Regions from separate parts of the Homo sapiens genome. Here region 2 is linked to region 1. Evidence: fine-mapped expression QTL. A gene starts in region 1. The other region holds a variant in brackets. All regions are shown on one strand. Distances are from middle to middle.

Region 1 (4,387 bases):
CCACCAGGATTTGGCAAACAATGTTTTTTGAGGGATTCTGGAAGATGGAAACATCAGAAGAAAACTGGAGCTAAGGGTCAAATGTCTCATCTCTCCAACAGAAGAACAAATGGATACACGGGATTCTGACAGTACAAGCTGCCATCTAAGTTTTATCCCTTTGCTAGAAAAGACTAGGACGAGGAGGCTTGTTTTTCTTCTGTTTTGTCAAGACCTTAGGGATTAACTGTTCTCTGCCAGATACTTAACACTAGTTCCAAGACTAACTAATAAAAAAGCTGTAAGAATTAGTTTGATTTTGAAAACAAAATTTTAGTGGTTATCATATCCCTATTTCTTCTGTGTAAGTTCCATTTATAAGAATATCAAAAGATGTCTTTTGGTCTATTGGTGAGTGCAAGCTGCCCATCCAGATTTAAATTATCAGCTGCCCAAAGATCTGAAAAAAAGTTCATCTTCCTAGTCAATTATTAATATACTAGAAAAATCTTCAGCCATGTTCACCTGGAGACTTTTATAAATAATTGCATCCTGACCCACGGATGGCTCAGTGTCCTACACTCATAATAACTAAAAGCACTGATGGATGGCTACCGACATTCTAAATGACCAATACCTTTGGCACAGGATGTTTATTTCCTTTTGCTTAGAAGGAAGAGGGGTAGGAGATGCAGATGCATTTTCTTTATCCATGGACTGGATATACTGGCCATCACAATGCTACTGTTAGTAGCCAAACTTTTCCTTCATAGAAACAAGAGTACTGAGACTGAGGAGGTTCTGCTGGTATCGATGAGACAGGGGAGGGCTACTTGCTCTACCCCAGCATACATGGGCTCACACGATGTGCTTATGCCACTGTACAGTAACGTAGGATGCCACGTCCTCACGCAAATCAGAAGGGAAAGTGTGGGTAAGGTAGCAACGTGAATGGAAGAGACACTTTATTAGATAAAACCCTTTGTTCCCGATTCAGGATGTTTAATTTGCTTCTCTTTAAACTCTGTGACTTTTCCTGGTTCAAAAGGACAGTCATGGACAGCAGCAGAGGAGTGGGGGTCTGAAAAATGTAATCTTTGTGTCAAGGCACTCTGTGGCCTCACAACTGCCCCCCTGTCAGAGGGATGCTGCCTTCCAGCCCTAAAGACACTAGGGCTTTTCAATGGACGGGGTGTTGAAGCAGCCAGATGGTAAGGTCTTCCTGATGTCCTCCAGATTGCGAATGTCCTTCATGATCTCCTCGATATCTCGGTTATAGTCCATGATGGCAGCCTCCTGCTTCTTGGCTTCATTCTCCAGGTCAGACACTTTCCTATCAAGATCGCTGACCTTCATTTCATCTTTGGCTTTGTTTAGGGTGCCTTCAATCTCGTTTAGCTTATTCAGGTCCACTGTATCCAGCTGCCCTGGAGGGTCAGAAAGTACATAGAAGAGAACAGACATATTCAGTAAGAATGATCCCTTCACAAGTACCTGCACTAGACTCTAGGCCCAGCAGCTGCCATTCTGCACAGGCAGCCCGGCAAATGTGACTTGCAGATTGTTGATGTCACACAATGGTATAAAATATGCAAACCAAGTACAAATGCTGACCTAACCCAGCAGGGATGGGTCTGAGCATACAATTAATATAGAGCTGGATGTTTCTTTCTGAGACAATGGTTTTTGCAGAATGTTTCCTCAATGCACAGCTACCATGTTCTAGACCTTTGAGGGCCATCTGATAACATTTAATACCTTTTCCAGGTGTATACATGTAAACTCTATGTCATTTTAGTGCCATCAAAGATACACAAATCTCTAAGAACCCTAATCCCTCAGCTCTTAGAGAGATTCCAGGGAAGATGGGTCAGTTTTGAAGGTCACTTTCTGCTTTCAGGAGTTAGACACTATTAGGAGCCTTCCTATGGAAAATGGCCAGGAGTAAAATGCTGAAATAATTTCAGCAAGTCTTCACTTTAAGCTTAGCAAGAAAAAGAGGTTCTTTTGAAAGAAATGAGATGTTTCCATAACAAACAAAAGCAGACACAATAGACAGCATTTCATGCATACTTGACTTGATTAAAGTCTCACAAGACCATTTTACATCAGTGATTCTCAGATGTTAAATAATTTGCCCAAGTTTGCACAGCCTATAGGCAACAAAGCAAAGATACTAACCCAAGTCAGACTAATGTTAAAAGTCTGGCTGTTCCACAAAAAGCTTTCTCTTCTAGCTTACTTTCATTTTATATCCATCTGTTGGCACATAACTTATTCTTGACATTTGAGACCGATAAAAAATACCCCTGTAGCCCCCCACCAAAACAAAATGCACCAGTCTTTAAAGGCTGGCAAATTAAAATATAATGCCTTGCTACAAAGAGTCCTGGCTAGAGTGTTGACACTTTATAATGGAGTCTGGTGACAAAAGTGCATCTGTCCTAAAATGAAGCCTGCTCCCTAACACCCTATCAAACTGGATTAAAAGAAGGTTTCCGTATGCATAGATTTCCTTGAAAAATCAAGGTTTTTCTCTCTTTTGGCATGAAAGCTTTCCCCTCATCGGACTGTCCTTACTTAGCAAATGAAGAGAATTCCAGGCAGTAAAGTCATGACCAGTTTTAAGTGTTCTTTTTCGTTTTTTAAATTGAGACAGGGTTTCGCTCTGTTGCCCAGGGTGGAGTGCAGTGGCACGATAACAGCTCACTATCACCTCAAACTCAAGTGATGCACCTGCTTCAGTCTCCCGGGTAGCTAGGACTACAGGCGTGTAGCACCACACCCAGCTAATTTTTAAAATAATTTGAAGAGACGAGGTGAGATCTCGCTATGTTGCCTAGGCTGGTCTCAAACTCCTGGCCTCAAGCTATCCTCCTTGCATGGCTTCTTAAAGTACTGGGATTACCAGTGTGAGCCATCACACCCAGCCTGTGATTCTACTATTCTTTTATTCTACTATTGAAATCCTTTACTTTAAATCCCTTAAAGATACTGCCAGCAAGATGAGTTAAGAAAAATCACTGTTTAGTTGTACAATGATACTGGACCATAAATGCTACCCTAGCTGGCAATATATCTTCAAAATATAAAAAGAAACTCCTCAGACCACAGTGTTCTACTTAGGGCAAGGTCCACAGAAGGCACCTAGTAAGTACTTGTCACATTAACACAGCCTAAAGTCATGATTCAGGTCACACTGTAAAGCTGACAAATAATAAGTATGGTAAAGAAGCAAGTTGCTCTTAAAGACCCTGTCATGCAAGACAAACATTTATTTTATAAGGCTTTCAAAAATAAGCAACAGCAAAAGGAAATATTAATAATTTAATTAATGACTTAAAAGGGATTCATGTAAACCTATATCATCTGCTTTTGAGTCAACTGTACTATATCAGATCCTAAGAACAGTACAAAAGATTCAGAGACTGACAAAAATGACTCTATGGCTACGTACCCAGCTGCTCCAAGAGGTCATTAATAATGCTGAGGAGGCTAGTAACAGAGTTTTTGGCTTTTCTGGCATTGATCTCGGCTTCTTGAGCAGCCTGTGAAGCCTGTAAGGGAAAAATGAGGCAAAGAGTCTTGACTGTATGTTTTCATCTTCTTTAAATCTTTTTTCCCAATGACCCAACAAATCTAATTTCCAGATTTTCTTCCCTTTTCTAACTTAGGAAATTGAAACCTCTCATTGCTTTTTTTTTTTTTTTTTTTTGGTGGGGCTGCTGCATATCTTCATATTGAGGATGTTGGTATTTCTACTTCATCAAAGTTATGACTAGGCAGTCAGGATGCCTACACTCACTAACTCACTATATTTGTACTTCAAAAATTAATCTCCTTTTCTCACATTCTAACTCAATAATATATGGAGGTATATTCATAGTAAAGCCTATTAAGCAGAAACAAGTTATTTTTTAAGGATGATTATAGAAACTATGTTTCAGAACCAAAACATGTCCTTCAGGACACTCTTAGGGACTTATTAGAAATGTCCTATTCTTTGAAAATTTTCATAGTTAAGTAAAGCTCTTCTAGGAGTTCTCTTCTGTAAACTCCCCCTCCACATGCAATGACCCAGCCACAGTCCCCCTGACACACATACTCATTTATTGGGGCAATATAATTTACATTTTAAAAACCAAACAAAGGTAAATACACTTGGGAAATTCCATGAAACCTGAACAAATAACTGTGCATGAGTCATAGGAAACAGCAATGGAAGAGGAAGTGTCTAAATATCAGAAAACAGATGTTCTCACAAATAAATCTAGTTGAGATTTAAGTAAGTGGCTCTGAGCCTCTTACCACATAATTGTTTTTCCTAGTTTTGAGTAAGGACAACACAAACATTTTGGGATCAAAACAATGTGAAGATTTAAAAAAGAACAAGAAAGCAAGGCAGAAA
Region 2 (4,395 bases), 930 kb after region 1:
AACTTTAACTTGTCTGATGTCACCAAGCTGGCAAGTGGAATTCAAATTCACATAGGCCTGATTCCAAAGCCAGAGCTCTTTTCTAACACTCCAACGAACTAACATCCTTATTTGAAGGTTGGAACTAGTAAGGCATATAATCGTGGAGAAGGCAATTAAGTATCTCTGAACCTGGGGTTTCTTCACAAATGAAGGTGGACTAGATGAATGCTAAGGTCCCTTTCCCTAAAATGCTCTCTTTCTATTGATCTAGGGCTAGTGGACTCTGGAGGGAGAGCTCACACCAATCTCAAGCAACAGCAGCAAGTAAATCAACAATAAATATTTATTTAGTGCCCACTCTATATGAGACAAATTATAGCTTTATTTTAATTATTCTAACAAGTCTGTGAGGGCCTGATTATTATCCTCCTTTTTATAGAGGAGGAGACCAAGGCTCAGAGAAGTTCAGAAGCATACCCAAAGTCACACAGTTAATAAGTAAACCCAGGAATGTCTGACTTTTTAAGTCCACGCTCCTGTGTCCACCACTTTATATTTGTAAGGAAGGTGGGGAAAGGATGGAGGGCAGGTATTGTAAGAGATGGTCATTTAAGGCCAGAGAAATACCTTACAGAGTGGTCACCTGGCAGAGTGGTCAGAGGTAAATCAGTTGAGATAAGCAGAGGTGCTTAGAACAGGTAATTAAAGCCCTGTTCTAGTCTCTCTTATTAGACTTTACTCCCAACCATAGGCAAATGTGCTACTTACTTCCACACATGGAGTCCTGCCCTGGAAGGAGCTTTGCCTGGGAGAGCTTGGCGTGGCATCCAGTCTTGCTTATGGAGACCACTTATCCCCTAAGTTAGTAAAACTTTTGTGCACCACCCTCCATTCCCCCACCATCTTGCCTCTCTGGACTTGTCTTGCCTCTCTGGACTTTAGCCTAGGTGACTTACAGAAATGCCAGACTTCTAGCCCAAGCCCTATTATGCCCAGTACTTTTCTGAGGCTGCTTCAAGTCTTGGTGTCTACTAGATAACGCTTGCTGGAGTATGATATCACCAGCTGTAATGGAAAGGAACAATCAGTGGTGAAAAAAAAATGAGACTCTGAAAAATAAACAAGGGTCCATGCCTGGTTATTCCAAGGTCAAGCCAGGTTTGCAAAGCAGATGCCCAGACTGATGGAGCACAAGCATGGGCTTTGGGACCTGGTAGATCTGGGTTTGGATAAGACTTGGCTATCCCCGCTTTCTGGCTTCAACTTAGAGTGTCAGTCAGTAAAATGAGGATGACTGGAACCTTGTAGGGTGGCTGTAAACATGGAAAACATGCACGACACTTTAAGCACTTTGGAGAGACAGAGAGGAAGCAGGTCCTGTTACCACGAGTGTTAAGGAAATAGCATGAGAAAAGCCTTTTCCCTGCTTTGAGTACTCAAGCAAGGATCACCATTTTTCACACTGTTTTGCTTCTCCAGAAACTGGAATGTGACTATTTGGTGAGTAACACCAACAATACCCACTGGACACTAATGTTCAGAAGGTAGCCAATCTCTGGAATTGAAAAGCAGCTCATGGAGGCTGCTGGAACACACCCCTCAGAGCCTTAATGAAGGGGTCTTACAACTTTTTACATAGGGAATTTTCAAAACTCACCTTTTTTCACTTCAAAATAGAGAAGCGGTAACTGCCTGAATGTGATTGTTATATAAGAAAATGAAGGAACATAGGCTAAAACCAGTAAAGGGAAAGGACAAATCAGACATAGTAAAAATATGTCATCTGCAAAGCAGGACGGGCCGAGAAATGTGGGAGGGACGT[C/ACGTC]CAGGATGGTAAATGGGCCCCTTGTCATGCAGGCAGCCCTATGTCCTGGTTAATGTCTTTGTCCTGGAATTGTTTTCAAGAGCACTGCCTTTAATTCTTAGAGCCGTCCCAGTGTGGATGATAAAGTCTTGGGTCACCTAGACATACAGAATATAGAGGAATATAGGATATCACTCACACATTTATGCGGGAGAGGCAAGCTATATATGCTCTTTGGGCTACAAAGCCCCAAGTTAGCCCAGGCAGATGGACACTCAGGGAAGGAACTTCCATAGCTACGCTGTCTGAGCCAGGGCACTCTTCCTCATATTTCTACTAAACCCCTCTGATTGTCACATAGGCTCATTTGGTGGCTGGTGAAATGGAAGTGGAGACAGAGGAGAAAACAGGAGGGTGCGGGGGCAAGGGAGGAGGGGCGGGATAAGCCCGAGGAGTCATAGCATCATCAGTCAACTATTCCATGCTATGGCATCAAATGGGGAAATGGACTCAATGACTGTGCTCGTCTGCTGTGGCTCAGTTTGTCTTTTTGGAAGGCAAAGGGATTACTTAGAGCATGGCACCATTAGTCAGTGGCCTGGCTTGGCCTAAGTCAGTGTCTCCTTACTTCACCCTTTGTGTTCTGAGATTCCTAGGAAGGATCTTAAAGAGGTCACCAGTTTCTGACCATTCTGAGGCTAGAACATGGGTTTTTGGTATTTGTCCCAGTCCCACCAGAAGTGAATATGTGTATATGTGTGTCCGGTGTGCCTCGTGGGTGTGCCTCACTGATCCAGGATGTGCACAAAGGCCTCACAGCCCCCTTGCCCCACCTTGCTGGGCCCCCTGTGTTCTATTTTAACAGCTCAGGGTAGCCTGATCTGAGGTCCTTCCATCCCATCCCCTCCTTGTTTACTGGAACATTGGGTCACCTCAGTGCAGCTGGAATGCAATCTCTGGGCGATTCAGTAAGGCCAAGGCGGGCCCTGCAAGGCGTCATGTCATTGCGTTGTTTTTCCTCCCCTCCCACTGAGTTTTCTTGGAAGTTCTGAGCCAGGCTCAGTGTGTATCTCCAAAGATGCATTCCAAATTCCCAGCTGCTTGCAACTCAGCAAGTCTCACTGCCTCTCCTTTTAAAACCCAGGCACCCTGAAAGGTTAGAGATAAAAAAAAGCCCACACATAGGCAAAGGGGGAGTGAAGCACTATATGGGGCCTGGAATGGGGGTGTCAAGCCTCTTGTGGTTTGCAACTGCCCATTGTCACATAGCATTCAACCATGATTTCCTCTCTTAAAAGCAAAGAGGAAAACAATCTCTGTGTAAGATGTTTTTGTGGCTTCATTGAAAAGAAAGATGGGCAAACTTGTCCCCAGTCTGTGCATCAGGCCCAGCTGAGGGGCCTGGAGGTGGCTGTGCTGCCCTTTTCCTCCCTGAGCACAGATCTTGCCTTATTCTCCACCATCCTGAACTCTGGTGATCTATCTCTGTCCATCTCCCTATTTCCCGCTAACTTCCCTGCCCCCATGCTTTTTTCCCTTTCATCTTTGTCTCTCCATTATGATTCCTTCCTTCCTTCCTGGACTAGAGGAAATAATGGAGGGCAGGGAGAAATAGCCAAACACATCAACTATTTAAAAATCACATTTATTTTTATCAAGAGTGAAAAAGGCACTGTGCTTTTCTTAGATCTGTTCTTGCTGTTGAGTGATATATTGATAACTTAGGGATGAGCTTTGGGTTCTCAATGTGTGATCATCTTCTGACCTACAGCATGAACAGCCTTGGAACCTGCTAGAAATGCACATTCCCCAGCCCCATCTCAGACCTCTTGGGGATAAGGCACAGAATCAGAATTTTAACATGTCCTCCAGGTGATTCTGTTGTGCATAAAAGTTTGAGAACTCCTGGTGTTAGAGGATTCTCCAAGGGGCTGGGGGTGAAAGGAGGTCTTGAGGTTTCTTTCTGCCCTCTGGATGTGAGGAGGATGGGGTCTGTCCTACACTGGTTAGGCCTGGCTCATGCACCTTGCCTTTCAAACTGGGGCAGGGGTGAGAGTGACAGTAAGGAGAGGAAGGACTGGGAGGGAGTTAATGGTAGCTCTGCTGGTGTTCCTTGTGAGCTGGATTCATGAGCAACCCTCTGGTCAGGGATCTACAGCTTTCTGATCTTCACATTGTGTTCAGCTTCCCTCTGAAAGCATGTGAACACCTGACACATGTTATGTAATGATGTGGATTCCATCACTCTGCTTCTCATCTGACCTTCAGCAACTAAGCTGACTACTGGTTGTAGATGGAAGTTGTGAAATCTATTGTTTATTTCTTTTCTTTTCTTGGACTAAAGCAAATAACTAAAAATAGGCTCTTTATCTTGTCAGTTCTGTTCCTATCTTCTGAAAGACTTTCAAGAAGAGCTCCAAAGATTATGAAGAGTGTTGGGATTATGAATTTAGACTCATGGTGTTTGGTTTGGTAGCTACTGGCCACATGGCTATTAAGCAATTGAAATGTGGACAGTTGGAACTAAGTCAGGCTGTAAGCATACAACACCCATCAGTTTGCAAAGGCTTAGTCCAAAAGAAAGTGTTAAGTTATTTCATGGATAATTTTTA

What was found. PIP is the estimated chance that this variant, and not a neighbour inherited with it, causes the effect. A credible set is the group of variants that fine-mapping cannot tell apart.
Region 2: its variant is the best candidate, but not a certain one, in a credible set for the expression of LAMC1-AS1 in thyroid (GTEx, PIP 0.74).

What each region holds. Positions count from the first base shown.
Region 1 is chr1:183,139,553-183,143,939 of GRCh38, reverse strand. It overlaps LAMC1-AS1 (LAMC1 antisense RNA 1), which reads left to right and starts at 2,670. Exons shown (of 3, transcript NR_149048.1): 1 at 2,670-2,798; 2 at 2,971-3,129. It overlaps LAMC1 (laminin subunit gamma 1), which reads right to left. Exons shown (of 28, transcript NM_002293.4): 27 at 3,437-3,536; 28 at 1-1,406. The coding sequence ends at 1,150.
Region 2 is chr1:182,205,434-182,209,828 of GRCh38, reverse strand. The region is part of intron 2 of LINC01344 (long intergenic non-protein coding RNA 1344); the gene reads left to right. Among named protein-coding and RNA genes, the nearest start is that of LINC01344, 110 kb to the left of the region's middle. The variant C/ACGTC (reference allele first, on the strand shown) is at 1,805.